Homo sapiens: one gene and its partners. The protein of the gene in region 1 purifies or fractionates together with the protein of each later gene. This does not show direct contact. Each region holds a gene or a part of one and is shown in the gene's direction. Other genes may lie near its edges.

Region 1 (3,500 bases):
AAACAAAAAAACTATGATTGTTGTTCCACATATTATTGCTATTGTTGTCCCATTGTAGATATTAATTACTGAAGCTTTAATAGCTTTCAGATGGTACTAAAAATGAAATTTTTTATTACTCCTGGTAACATTTTAAAAATCATCTGGAATAATTTGTTTTTCTTTCAGAAACCTGTAATTATTGTTCAGTAAAAGTCCACAATTACATTTGAATGTCTTATACCTCTGTTTGTTTCTTTCCTACATCCTACAGATTCTTGGTAACAGCTGGCCCAGGTTTCTACAGGTACTCAATTTATATCATTACATGAGGAGTGAATTACAAATATTTAAAGACAAATACTTAGCTGAGGCTGGGTGCGCTTGCTCATACCTGTAATCCCAGCACTTTGGGAAGCCGAGGCGGGTAGATCATGAGGTCGGGTTCGAGAGCAGCCAGGCCAACATGGTGAAACCCCGTCTGTACTAAAAAAAAAATACAAAAATTAGCTGGGCATGGTGGTGGCATGCGCCTGTAATCCTGGCTGCTCAAGAGGGTAAGGCAGAATTGCTTGAACCCGGGAGGTGGAGGTTCCACTGAGCTGAGATCTGCACTCCAGCCTGGGTGACAGAGCAAGACTCCATCTTGAAAAAAAACAAAACAACAAAAAAGCCTCCAAATACTTAGCTGAGCTTACATTTTAAAGAGCGGTACTGCATTATTACGTAGATACATTTATTGAATGTCTCATGTTCTAGGCACAGTCACTGGTCTTCAGTGAAGGCACTCTGCCTTCATGGAGCTGACATTCTGTTCTGTGTGTGGGAACATAATAAACAGAATGGTTTCAGGTAGTGGTAAGTGCCATGAGGAAAATAGGACCATGTGATACGGCATGGATGGAAGTGGTTTTACTGTAGATTGAGTGGTTAGGGAGGGCCTTTTTAGAGGTGGTAATTTGACCTGTGACTTCAATGACTAGAAAAAATCAGCCATAGTGACGATTTGGAGGAAGACTGCTACAGATAGCAGGGGCGGCAAATGCATTAGGTGAGGTTTGATTCTAGAGAATCTACAAATGTAAATTAATTATTTGGTTTGTCTGTTAAGCTTTTCATATTTGCTGTCAGATGATGTAGACAGATTAAAATTATTTTATGTGTAGTAACCAAATACAATATGTTGGTGTTGTTTAAACCCTGACTCAAACCAATTGTAGAAAGTCATTTTTGAAACATTGGGGGAAATCTGAATATGGATGGGTATTAGATGATATCAAGGAGTTATTGTAACTTTGTTAGGGATGATAATGGCATTATGTTTATGTAAGAAAATGACCACTTTTTATTAGTGATAGAGACTGAGGAATGAGGGAGAAAACTTGCAAATGTCTGGTATTTTATTTTATTTTATTTTATTTTGAGATGGAGTTTCCCTCGTTGCCCAAGCTGGAGTGCAGTGGTGTGATCTCAGCTCACTGAAGCCTCCACCTCCCGGGTTCAAGCAATTCTTCTGCGTCAGTCTCCTGAGTAGCTGGGATTACAGGAGCGCGCCACCACGCCTGCTAACTTTTTGTATTTTTAGTAGAAACGGTTTTTCACCATGTTAGCCAGGCTGGTCTTGAACTCGTGATCTCAGGTGATTCGCCCGTCTCGGCCTCCCAAAGTGCTGGGATTACAGACGTGGGCCACCGTGCCCAGCAATGTCTGTTATTTTAAACAGATACCAGATAAAAACCAAAAAATGTGGTGGAGGGAGATAAGATAGATGAAGCAGGTCTGGCACAATCTGGATAATTGTTGGGTTGGGGTGATGGGTACATGGGTATTAATAATATTGTTCTCTGCTTTTGTGAGGTTTGAAAATTGTTCATATTTTAAAATATATTTTTTTGGCTGGGCCCAGTGGCTCATGCCTGTAATCATAGCACCTTGGGAGGCTGAGGAAGGTGGATTGCTTGAGCCCAGGAGTTTGAGACTAGGCTGGGCAATGTGACGAAATTCTGGCTGTACCAAAAAAATACAAAAATTAGACAGGCATAATGGCACATGCCTGTAGTCCCAGCTACTCGGGAGGCTGAGGTGAGAGGATGGCTTGAGCCCGGGAGGCAGAGGTTGCAATGAGCCGAGATTGTGCCACTGCATTCCAGCCTCGGTGACAAAGCCAGACCCTATCTCAAAATAAATAAGTAAATGAAATAAAATAAAATAATATATTTTTGAAAACGTTCATTCATGTTTAGGCTGGACATGGTGGTGCACACCTGTAGTAATCCTAGCACTTTGGGAGGCTGAGGCAGGCGGATCACCTGAGGTCAGGAGTTTGAGACCAGCCTGCCCAACGTGGCAAAACCCTGTCTCTACTAAAAAATACAAAAAGTAGCCGGGCATGGTGGCGGGTGCTTGTAATCCCAGCTACTTGGGAGGTTGAGGCAGGAGAATGACTTGAACCCAGGAGGCAGAGGTTGCAGTGAGCCAAGATTGCGCCACTGCCCTTCAGTCTGGGTGACAGAGCAAGATTCCATCTCAAAAAAAAGAAAATGTTCAATTGTAAATAAAAATGTTTTAAAATAATTAGTAAAAGTGGCCAGGTATAGTGGCTCACACCTGTAATCCCAGAACTTTGGGAGGCCAAGGCGAGTGGATCACCTGACATCAGGAGTTCGAGACCAGCCTGGCCAACATGGTGAAACCTTGTCTCTACTAAAAACACAAAAATAAAAAAAATATAACTGTAAATACAAAAATTAGCTGGGCGTGGTGGTGGGTGCCTGTAATCCCAGCTGCTTGGGAGGCTGAGACAGGAGAATTGCTTGAACCCAGGAGGTGGAGGTTGCAGTGAGCTGAGATTGCACCACTGCACTCCAACCTGAGTAACAGAGTGAGACTCCATCTCAAAATTTGTGAAAGTACCATATTTAAGTGTCTGTTCCCTTCCACGCTTCTTTTCATTTTGATAAAAATACAGTATTTCGTTTCTATTTGTAAATGTTCAGTATTTATTCAACAAACAGGAGTGTTGTATTTCAGGCACTGTGCCAGTGCTTGAGTTAAAACAAAGGGCAGGCTCTTAACACCTGCCTGAAGGGGCTTATGGCTTGCTGGTGGAAAGGAGAGTTTGGCAGTGTGGATTGTGTTAACATGGAGAAGATTTTTGTGTTTTCCTGAGGGCATACACGATTAGCATCTTAGTTTAGTTTGTATGTGATTGGATTCTTAAAAAATATTTTTCCTTTTCTACCAAATAGAAAATTTAAGAAATTCTATATATGGCTAGGTGTCAAGTCTGAATCAATGTTGTAGTCATTTCCCTTATTCATATGTACTATAGGGCACTCGAATAAATTACTTATTTTACTATCTTTTGACATCCCAATTTGTTGTTACTTAAATTTTTTTTTTTTTTTTTTTTTTTTAATGGAGTCTCACTCTGTGGCCCAGGCTGGAGTGCAGTGGCCCCATCTTGGCTCATTGTCACCTCCACCTTCCAGCTTCAAGTGATTTTCCTGACTCACCCTCCC
Region 2 (3,500 bases), about 15 Mb from region 1:
AATGTTTTCCTTCTTTCTGTTTGATCATTTTATTTTTGTCATTTTCTTCCTTCTAACTTTTGTCATTATTCATTTTCTAGCTTCTTGAACTTATAATTCATTTATTTGCAATCTTTATTGTTTAATAATAATAACTTTTTTTTTTTTGAGAATCTCCCTCTGTCACCCAGGCTGGAGTGCAGTGGTAGATCTTGGCTCACTGCAACCTGTGCCTCCTGGGTTCAAGTGATTCTCCTGCCTCAGCCTCCCCAGTAGCTGAGACTACAGGTGCCCACCACCATGCCTGGCTAATTTTTTTTATTTTTAGTAGAGACGGGGTTTCCCCATGTTGACCAGGCTGGTCTCGAACTCCTGGCCTCAAGTGATCCACCCGCCTCAGTCTCCCAAAGTTCTGGGATTACAGGCGTGAGCTACAATGCCCTGCCTAATAATAACTCTTTTAAGGCATAAGTTCTCTGTATATGGTTTTGGCTGTATGCCATAACTTTGATAACTTCATTAGTGTTCTCATAGTCAATCATTTCTCAAATTTCATTTCAGTCTTTTCTTAAAAAGGTTCTCTTGCTTAAGGTCAAGAGTTCGAGATCAGCCTGGGCAACATAGCAAGACCTCATCTTTACAAAAAATAAAAAAAATTAGCCAGGCATGGTCGGTGGTACATGCTTGTAGTCCCAGTTATTTGGGAGGTTGAGGCAGGAGGGTTGCTTGAACCTAAGAATTTGAGCCTGCAGTGAGCTGTGATGGTGCCACTTCACTCCAACCAGAGCATCAGAACCGGACCCTGACTCGAAAAAAAAAAAAAAGAAATTTTTTTCTCTTGAAAAGTTTTAGAGAATAGTGTTTTCTAAAATTTTCAAGTGGTTTTGATGTTTGGTTTCTTGTTCTGTCACCCAGGCTGGAATGTGATGGTGCGATTTCATACTTGTTAATTTCTGCACTATGGCCAGTTTATACAGTTTGTATGAGTTCTACATCTAAGACTATATTGAGATTTTCTTAGCGGCCTAGGATATTCCTTGGACTCACATATTCCTAGCAATAATCCTTAGAGTTGAAAAGTTGTATTTGTTGTACACACATATATATACATACACAAATATATGTATATAATATATATGTGTATATATGCATATATCTATATGTATATATCCATATATATGTAAGTTCTAGTGCTTGTGTGTGTGTGTGTATCTCCACGCTATTGAAACTTTCTACCTTTCTTTCTTTTCTTTTTTTTTTTTTTTTTTTGATGGAGTCTTGCTCTGTCATCCAGGTTGGAGTGCAGTGGCATGATCTCGGCTCACTGCAACCTCCTCCTCCCGGGTTCAAGTGTTTCTCCTGCCTCAGCCTCCTGAGTAGCTGGGATTACAGGCGTGTGCCACCATGCCCGGCTAAGTTTTTTTTTTTTTTTTGTATTTTTAGTAGAGAAGGGGTTTCATTATGTTGGCCAGGATGGTCTTGATCTCCTGACCTTGTGATCCACCCGCCTCAGCCTCCCAAAGTGCTGGGATTACAGGCGTGAGCCAACATGTCTGGCCGAAACTTTCTACCTTTCCTTCCATTCTGTTTCACCAGTTCTCTAAATGATAATTACAGAGTGGTAACTTCCCCATCAAAACATATATATAGGCCAGATGTGGTGGCTTCCACCTGTAATCCCAACACTTTGGGAGGCCAAGGCCGGTGGATATTTTGAGCCCAGGAGTTTGAGGCCAGCCTGGGCAATATGGTGAAACCCCGTCTCTACAAAAAAATACAAAATTAGCTGGACATGGTGGCACATGCCTCTCGTCCCAGCTATTCGGGAGGTGGAGGTATTCCTCAGAGAGGATCACCTGAGCCTGTCCGTTCAAGGATGCAGTGAGCCATGATCACGCCACTGCACTCCAGCCTGGGTGACACAATGAGACTCTGTCTTAAAAAAAGAAAAAAAGTGGGCCAGGCGCAGTGGCTCACGCTTGTAATCCCAGCACTTTGGGAGGCTGAGGCAGGCGGATCATGAGGTCAGGAGTTCAATACCAGCCTCACCAACATGGTGAAACCTCGTCTCTATTAAAAATACAAAAATTAGCCGGGCGTGGTGGCGGGCGCCTGTAATCCCAGCTACTCGGGAGGCTGAGGTAGGAGAATTGCTTGAAACTGGAAGGCGGAGGTTGCAGTGAGCTGAGATTGTGCCACTGCACTCCAGCCTGGGCAACAAGAGTGAAACTCCATCTCAGAAAAAAAAAGTGTATACACACACCAACACACACATACATGCACACTCTAGAACCTATCTCATCTATCACCACAAAGAGTAGAATATAACTATTCTTCCAGAGAAAATAAAACATTTAGCACACTTTTATAGTTTTTCTTCTTCCCTCTTCCTTCTCACTTTCAGATTTAGTTGAAATAATGTGAACTTTTAGTTCCAGATTACTACCAAATTGTTAATTTTTTTTTCTTTTGTAAACATCCTTTCTGAACAGGTATTAAGCTTCATGGTCATATTACAACGCACTTGTTAGCCATACCTTATACTTTAATTGGTTTCATTGCTCATGATAAGTTTTCCTATAGCTTTTCTTCTCCTTTCTTGAATTATTTAAGGTGATTAATTTTCCATTTGGCAGGAATACTCCATCAAGTAATTAAAAAAATTATTCCAGAGTTTACTTTCTGAGACCTTAAGTGTCTTTACTTGTATGTCCTTCTTTTGCTGTCACATGTGAGGGAAAGTTGAGCTAGGTGTAAAATTCTGAGGTCATAATCACAGTGCTTTCACCTCAGAATATATAAACCTTGCTTCATAAATTTCTAGTCTCTGGTGTTGTAGATGAGAAGTCCACTAATGGTCTATTTTTTCTCTGTGAGTAATCTGTTTTTGTTTGTTAAGGATCTTTATTTATTTTTATTTATTTTACTTTTTAGAGATGGGGTCTCACTCTGTCACCCAGGTTGGAATGCAGTGGTGCAATCAGAGTTCACTGCAGCCTCAAACTCCTGGGCTCAAGCAATCCTCCCACCTTGACCTCCCAAGTAGCCAGGACTACAGGCACCTGCCACCGTGCCTGGCTAATAAATATAGTTGGATGGTTTTCATTTGTTTATTTGTTTGTTTAGAGATAAGTTCTTGCTCTGTTGCCCAGGCTGGTGTGCAGTGGTGTGATCATAGCTCACTGTAACCTCGAACTCCTAGACTCAAGAGGTCTGCTAGCCTTAGTCTCTGAGTAGCTAGGACTATAGGTGCCTGCCACCATGCCTGGCTAATTTTTAAAATTTTATGTAGAGATAGGGTCTCACTATATTGCCCAGGCTGGTCTAAACTCCTGGCTTCAAGTGATCCTCCTGCCTTAGCCGCCCAAAGCACTGGGATTACAGGCTTGAGCCCATGCCCAGCCTGCTAAAGATCTTTATATAATTTTTTCTTTTTTCAATAATCTTCTATCGCCATTGTTGATCTGAAAAACTCAAGTCTTTCTTCAGCTCTTCATCTCAGGGAAATTGTATTCTGCTTT
Region 3 (3,500 bases), on another chromosome or scaffold:
TAAAATACTTGAATGAGATGCTGGAAAATTTCAGAACAGGTTTTGTTTTGAACTGTCGGGTCACTGTAGCCCCCAAAGCAGGGCATGATGTGTTCCTGCAGCCTGATAGCTATGTGACAGCACCTGTAGTACTAAAGCCAAGGATGCCAGGTGGTTCTGTTGCCTGGCCACAGGAAGCCAGCGCTTCTCACCATTGCCCTTTGAACTGTTGATCCAGTTAAGCTCACTAACAATGTGTAAATATGAAATTTAATCAATTGCTTGATTCATTTTCAAAAGATGTTTTGAAATACTCCTTTATCCGCATTGAAGTTTTGATGATTTTGTAATATGTAAGAAATGGACTTTTCAGAAAAGTACAACTTAGTACTTGAGACATTGGCTGTCAAAGTTCCATTCCAAAACTTCCTTTTAAGCTCTCTTTCCCTTCTCTCACTGACCAGAAGTTACTATGAAATGAAATAAAGGTAGGGAAAAAGGGAGAATTATCTCTGAGCTGCCCATATTCTGGAGAGAAATGTGGGAGAAAATTTTTAAGGTGGTATACTAAATTAGAATGACTTCAAAGTCTATTTCTTTATTTATTCTAGAGATGAGAACAAAATAATTTTCAGTAAAACTTAAAAATATCATGACCAGATAACCTGAAAATCTTAACTGTGGATGCATGTCTATTTTTATTGGGATTTTTTTCTATATTAAAAATCAGTTGACATCTGTTTTTAGATAATTTTTTAAAAAACTGGATTATAAAATGAAGCACTTAGTAAAGCTGATGGCAGAGGTTTTAGATCTTTTGAATACAGGAAAGTGGTAAGGGCATTATAGGTATGATTCATTGAGCTAGAGGGCGTTGGTGTTCACATTTTAAAAACATAATCATGACTTATCTGGAGTCACATGTTCCATTTTATTGGCTTCCTTCATATAGAAAATATAGTAACCAGCACTACATGCCTGTGAAAAAGTGAAGCAATTGTATATTTTCTGGGTGAAGGAAGTATTCTGTACATTCTCCATGTTTTACATCATGGTATTTTGAATAACCATGCTTCCATGTTCACATCAATTTTTTGTTTTTCAATTTATGCACAGCACTTGCTCTGAAATTTGGGGACTGAGTACACCAAATACGATAGATCAGTGGGATACAACAGGCCTTTACAGCTTCTCTGAACAAACCAGGTGAATATTCTGCCCTCTGTCGAATCTTAGAGATCTTGTGGGAGGGGGGTATATTTTGAAAGACCTATATGGGGTTGCTTAGTATAATTTTGCCTAGGATGTTTCCTTAATGTAAAATAAGGCATAGCATTTAAAATATCTGCTTGCCAGTATAAAAAATATATTAAATGTTTCAGCTGATGTTTTAATCAATGCAATTCTAGTTTGAATCTTCTTTAAATTACTGTATCCCCTAAAGAATAATAATTTTGATAACTATATATTTATTTTAGCTTGAGATCAGATTATAATCTGTTGTTGGCCTAATTTTTAAGTAGATACATGATGAGTTTTGCTAAATTTCTTGTTATCAGAATCTCATCTTTATACTAATAAATACATACTTAATGAACCCCTTATATCACAATTAACAGTAGGTTAACTCATTTTTATGTTACTTTTTTTAATCACTTCATTTTCTTTTTTGCGTATATGGTATTTGTTCATTTCATCTCATCATATTCATCACCATCCACATTTATTTGTGAACTACATAAATATACCTCAGTTCTCAAAACAGTCACAACTGGGTAAAGAGTTGCAGTAGTCTGAGGAAGTTACTATCACATCATTGTTGGTATTTATCATTCTTCACACTAGTTCCTTTTCTGACTCTTCAGTCACCTCCAGAATTAATATCCTTAGAAGCATCTCTAAAATGAGTTTGATTTACTAAACATAGAAGTTGACAAAGTTTTTCAAGTATAACTGCATAAACTCTCTTTTTTAAAAAATCAGTTTTTCCCAAGTTGTTAGCCTTTCATTGGCATTTGAGTCATTTATGTGACATATTTATAAGAAACATCTGCTAGTGCTGCTGCATACTTTTATCAGATCCATTAAATAGTACATTTTTGTTCTTGATTCTCACTAAAACTAACTAAATGGCTGTCATTCTTTTCTTTATGCTTTTATTGTACTAATTTAGCCCATTTGACTGCACTTTTTTTTTTTTTTTTTTAAAGTTCCCTCCTTTCTTTTCCCCTTGCTTCCCAACAGGTCTCTTGATGGTCGTCTCCAGGTATCCCATCGAAAAGGATTGCCACATGTTATATATTGCCGATTATGGCGCTGGCCTGATCTTCACAGTCATCATGAACTCAAGGCAATTGAAAACTGCGAATATGCTTTTAATCTTAAAAAGGATGAAGTATGTGTAAACCCTTACCACTATCAGAGAGTTGAGACACCAGGTAGGAATATTGCAAGTTTTTTTCTTGGTTTTGAATTAAATGCCTGAACTTCAGTATATTTAAGTACTCTTGTGACCCAGGAAAATTTTAGTGTAAATTCTAATAAATTACCTTAAATTGTGCATATTATTTGGTGGTAATTAAAATTTTTTTATTTTTAAAAATTTTTAATGAGAAAACATATCTGTTTCTTGGAATAGCATATGATTTGGCATGAAAGTGCATATCCAGGAAATCCTGTAGATTGGCAGTCTGCTCAGCGCTATGCTGATGTGCTTCTACATGTCCCTGCTGCAGTAACATTTTCAAGCATTTTGCACTTGGAGTGCTTTTAGAAGTACTTTAATGACATCATTTGTATGTACACCGTTTAGTAAAGCTTGTAACAAGACTTTTCATTTAGTTAGCTGTCTACCTGAAACTATTAAAAAATATAGCAGTAGCTGCGTTTTTGGAAAATTTCCTATATCTGATTTTACAGATAAAGACAATGTTAAGTTTTCCAATGGGGATTTATGAACTTTTATGGTAATATAATATTACCAGGATCACATTGTTCCCAAAAGTTTGAGATAAATTAGAACTTGGAAATTTGGATAATAGACTACCTAAGTTAGAGCCATAATCAGATTTGTCATTTTCTCAGTAACTAGTATATATCGAGTAGGTGGACCCTAGCTTTAAAAATTAAGCTACAACTTCTCTTCTTGTTGAAAACTTTAAAAAAGGTTCCCCCACTCCCCTTTGCTCTTTGCCATTAACTTGGATTTCTTGAACTTTTTCAGTTTTGCCTCCAGTATTAGTGCCCCGACACACCGAGATCCTAACAGAACTTCCGCCTCTGGATGACTATACTCACTCCATTCCAGAAAACACTAACTTCCCAGCAGGAATTGAGCCACAGAGTAATTATATTCCAGGTATTTTTGCCTTCTGAATCTCCTAAAACTTGGATAGATACAAATTTTGTTCATAAGCATTCAAGTTTTAGTAAATTGTGGTTTCACTTTTTTAAAAATGCTTTTGAGTTTTTAATAGAAAAATTGGATTCGTTGGGTGATTATTTTGTGAAATGTATAAGCC
Region 4 (2,893 bases), on another chromosome or scaffold:
GTCTGGCACTGACTTCCAGGATGCGTCTAACCCTTGGGACCCCTATCCAGAGCCTCACTTGTGGCTGGGAACACTTGTGGCCGGAACGCCCCTGGTGGGAAGATCCATGCCACCCCTTCCCTAGGGCAGCGCCTTAAGGGCAGAGCCTTCTTGAGGAGCTTGGGGTCTTTGGGTAGGTCAGACACCCTCCACTCTGTGGGTTGTCTGTCCCTCCTTTGCCCCCATCCCTGCACCCACACTGCTCATGCATCTCTTGTGTTCCCCAGCACCCGACAGACGTGGACTACAGGGTCATGGCCACCTTCACCGAGTTCTACACCACGCTGCTGGGCTTTGTCAACTTCCGCCTTTACCAGTTGCTCAACCTCCACTATCCCCCGAAGGTAGGACCCCAGCCCAGTGCCTTCTGCTCGCCGTGCAGGGGCCACAGCCCTTCTCTGTCCACACAGAGGCGAGGGGCTGTGGCTGTCCTCTGCCTCCTGACCTTCCCTTTGCCTACTAGCTCGAGGGTCAGGCCCAAGCAGAGGCAAAGGCCGGTGAGGGCACCTACGCGTTGGACTCCGAGAGTTGTATGGAGGTGAGAGGCTCCAGGAGCATCATCCGGCATCTCCCAAGGGAGTGGTCTCTGTCCCCAACACCTCTGGGGGTCTGGTTCAGAGTGGGGGTGGTTATGGCTAGGTGGGTGGTCTCAGCCTGCCCTTGGAACCCACACCTGCTGATGCCCAGGACTGTCACTGCTGCCCCTCCCCACCCTGGCCACATGCCCGCATGAGGTCCCCCACTGCAAGCAGCCCCCTTCTCTCCTGTAGAAACTGGCAGCCCTCAGTGCCAGCCTGGCCCGCGTGGTGGTGCCTGCCACAGAGGAGGAGGCCGAGGTGGATGAGTTTCCCACCGATGGGGTGAGCACTGCACTGCCTTCTGGCAGGAGGGCTGGGAGGGGTCGTGTGGGGGGTTTCCCAGCTTAGGGACATTTGCATCCTATAATTAGGTGTTATTTGATGGTCAAAGCAACTGAGCAGAAGAATGGGCTGAATTGTCATCAGAGTTTACATAGGAGGCAACAGAGCTCAGGAGTGGGGCCTTGGAGTTTCCTTTGAAGGCAGGATCCAGGATCTAGAAGGAAGCTGGAGTGGACGTTATCTCCAGCCCTGGCCCTCCAGTGGGGGTGGGCAGCCCTGGTGGTGCGAGGCCTGGCCCCTTTCTCAACAGGAGATGTCAGCGCAGGAGGAAGACCGCAGGAAGGAGCTGGAGGCGCAGGAGAAGCACAAGAAGCTTTTTGAGGGCCTGAAGTTCTTCCTGAACCGAGAGGTGCCCCGTGAGGCCCTGGCCTTCATCATCAGGTAGGGAGGCTCAAGGGCCCGCTGACAGCATTGGTTCGGCCATGCTCTGGTCTGGGTCCTGCCCTGGTGCCCATCGGTAACATTGGGATGGTGTCAGTTTCCACTTCTTATGAAACAGTGTGTGGAAAGTGCTCGGCACCGCACTGAGCACATAGGAAGTGCTCAGCAGAGGGCGGAACTGCCGTCATTTTATTACTAGCTTAGCACAGAAGGATGGGCAGTGGGCAGATCTCTGCTGAGCCAGGATTGAAGGATCCTGGGGTGAGGAGGGGGTAATTGTGTCCTAAGAGGGTGAGTTTATGGGCTGGGTGGCCAGCAGGTCCCAGGGAGCTGAGTCTCAGGACAGGCAGCTCATGTCTGTGTACCCGTGTGGGCTCTCCCTGTCCCTGTAGGAGTTTTGGTGGGGAAGTGTCCTGGGACAAATCTTTGTGCATTGGGGCCACCTATGACGTCACAGACTCCCGCATCACCCATCAGATTGTCGACCGGCCTGGGCAGCAGACCTCAGTCATTGGCAGGTAGGCCCTCAAGGGTCCTCGTCCGGATTTCTGGGTATCCTGTCTCAAAGGCCCTGCGATGCAGCAGGACCCTGAGTTGCCCTCTGTGACTCGTTTTTGCCTGCCACTCTGCGCCAGGTGCTACGTGCAGCCCCAGTGGGTGTTTGACTCAGTGAACGCCAGGCTCCTTCTCCCCGTGGCAGAGTACTTCTCTGGGGTGCAGCTGCCCCCACACCTTTCACCCTTTGTGACCGAGAAGGAAGGAGATTACGTTCCACCTGAGAAGCTGAAGCTGCTGGCTCTGCAGCGGGGAGAGGACCCAGGTGAGCGGGATGGGACTGGGCTGGCCTTGACCCCTGGGCCCACGCTGGCTGTTTCCCTTAGCTGCCAAGGTGGAAAGCTCCAGGGAACAGGCAGTAGGAGCAGAAAGCCCTTTGAAGTCACCTGTAGAATAAGGCTTAGGAGAAGGGACATCTACCTCCTGGGGTCAGGTGTTATTTGACGTTCAGGATGACTGAGCAGAAGAACATGCTGCATTGTCATCAGAGTTTACATTGGAGGCGACAGAGCTCAGGACTGGGGGTCTTGGAATTTCCTCTGATGGCAGCTGGGCTGTGGGGAGGTGCAAGAGAGGGCCACAATTGGGACATCCCTGAACTGCCCATGGCTAAAGACGGCAGGGTCAGAGAGGATGGGGCCTGGGCCTGTTGTCACCCTGCCAGAGAGACAGTAGATTCCCAGGGCATTCAGAGGACATTGGCTTTCTCTAGGAAACCTGAATGAGTCAGAAGAGGAGGAGGAAGAGGACGACAACAACGAAGGTGATGGTGATGAAGAGGGAGAAAATGAGGAGGAGGAGGAAGATGCAGAGGCTGGTTCAGAAAAGGAGGAAGAGGCCCGGCTGGCAGCCCTGGAAGAGCAGAGGATGGAGGGGAAGGTAGGGGGAGCTGCAATGCGGGGCTTGGCCTGGGAAGCAGCCCTGCTTGGTGCCTGCTCTGGCCTAGAAGGTCAGGAGCCAGAGGACTGTGGAGGTCGGGAGAACCTGCCCCCATAAGC

The links. Proteins that work in one complex are often made in the same cells at the same time.
Region 2: the proteins of RNF111 (region 1) and PML purify together in Homo sapiens (affinity purification with western blotting; 2 studies listed by BioGRID, with this or other methods). This does not show direct contact.
Region 3: the proteins of RNF111 (region 1) and SMAD2 purify together in Homo sapiens (affinity purification with western blotting, with the first as the bait; 3 studies listed by BioGRID). This does not show direct contact.
Region 4: the proteins of RNF111 (region 1) and PES1 purify together in Homo sapiens (co-immunoprecipitation; one large-scale study listed by IntAct). This does not show direct contact.

Annotation. Positions count from the first base shown.
Region 1 is NC_000015.10:58,990,663-58,994,162, forward strand, and holds part of RNF111 (E3 ubiquitin-protein ligase Arkadia), read left to right. Parts: intron 1-253; exon of another isoform or gene 254-286; intron 287-3,500. UniProt on the Homo sapiens protein: E3 ubiquitin-protein ligase. Required for mesoderm patterning during embryonic development. Acts as an enhancer of the transcriptional responses of the SMAD2/SMAD3 effectors, which are activated downstream of BMP.
Region 2 is NC_000015.10:74,001,216-74,004,715, forward strand, and holds part of PML (protein PML), read left to right. Parts: intron 1-3,500.
Region 3 is NC_000018.10:47,868,160-47,871,659, reverse strand, and holds part of SMAD2 (mothers against decapentaplegic homolog 2), read left to right. Parts: intron 1-1,095; coding exon 1,096-1,185; intron 1,186-2,223; coding exon 2,224-2,417; intron 2,418-3,202; coding exon 3,203-3,337; intron 3,338-3,500. UniProt on the Homo sapiens protein: Receptor-regulated SMAD (R-SMAD) that is an intracellular signal transducer and transcriptional modulator activated by TGF-beta (transforming growth factor) and activin type 1 receptor kinases.
Region 4 is NC_000022.11:30,579,018-30,581,910, reverse strand, and holds part of PES1 (pescadillo homolog), read left to right. Parts: intron 1-266; coding exon 267-383; intron 384-502; coding exon 503-577; intron 578-809; coding exon 810-899; intron 900-1,209; coding exon 1,210-1,340; intron 1,341-1,732; coding exon 1,733-1,858; intron 1,859-1,975; coding exon 1,976-2,160; intron 2,161-2,607; coding exon 2,608-2,774; intron 2,775-2,893. UniProt on the Homo sapiens protein: Component of the PeBoW complex, which is required for maturation of 28S and 5.8S ribosomal RNAs and formation of the 60S ribosome.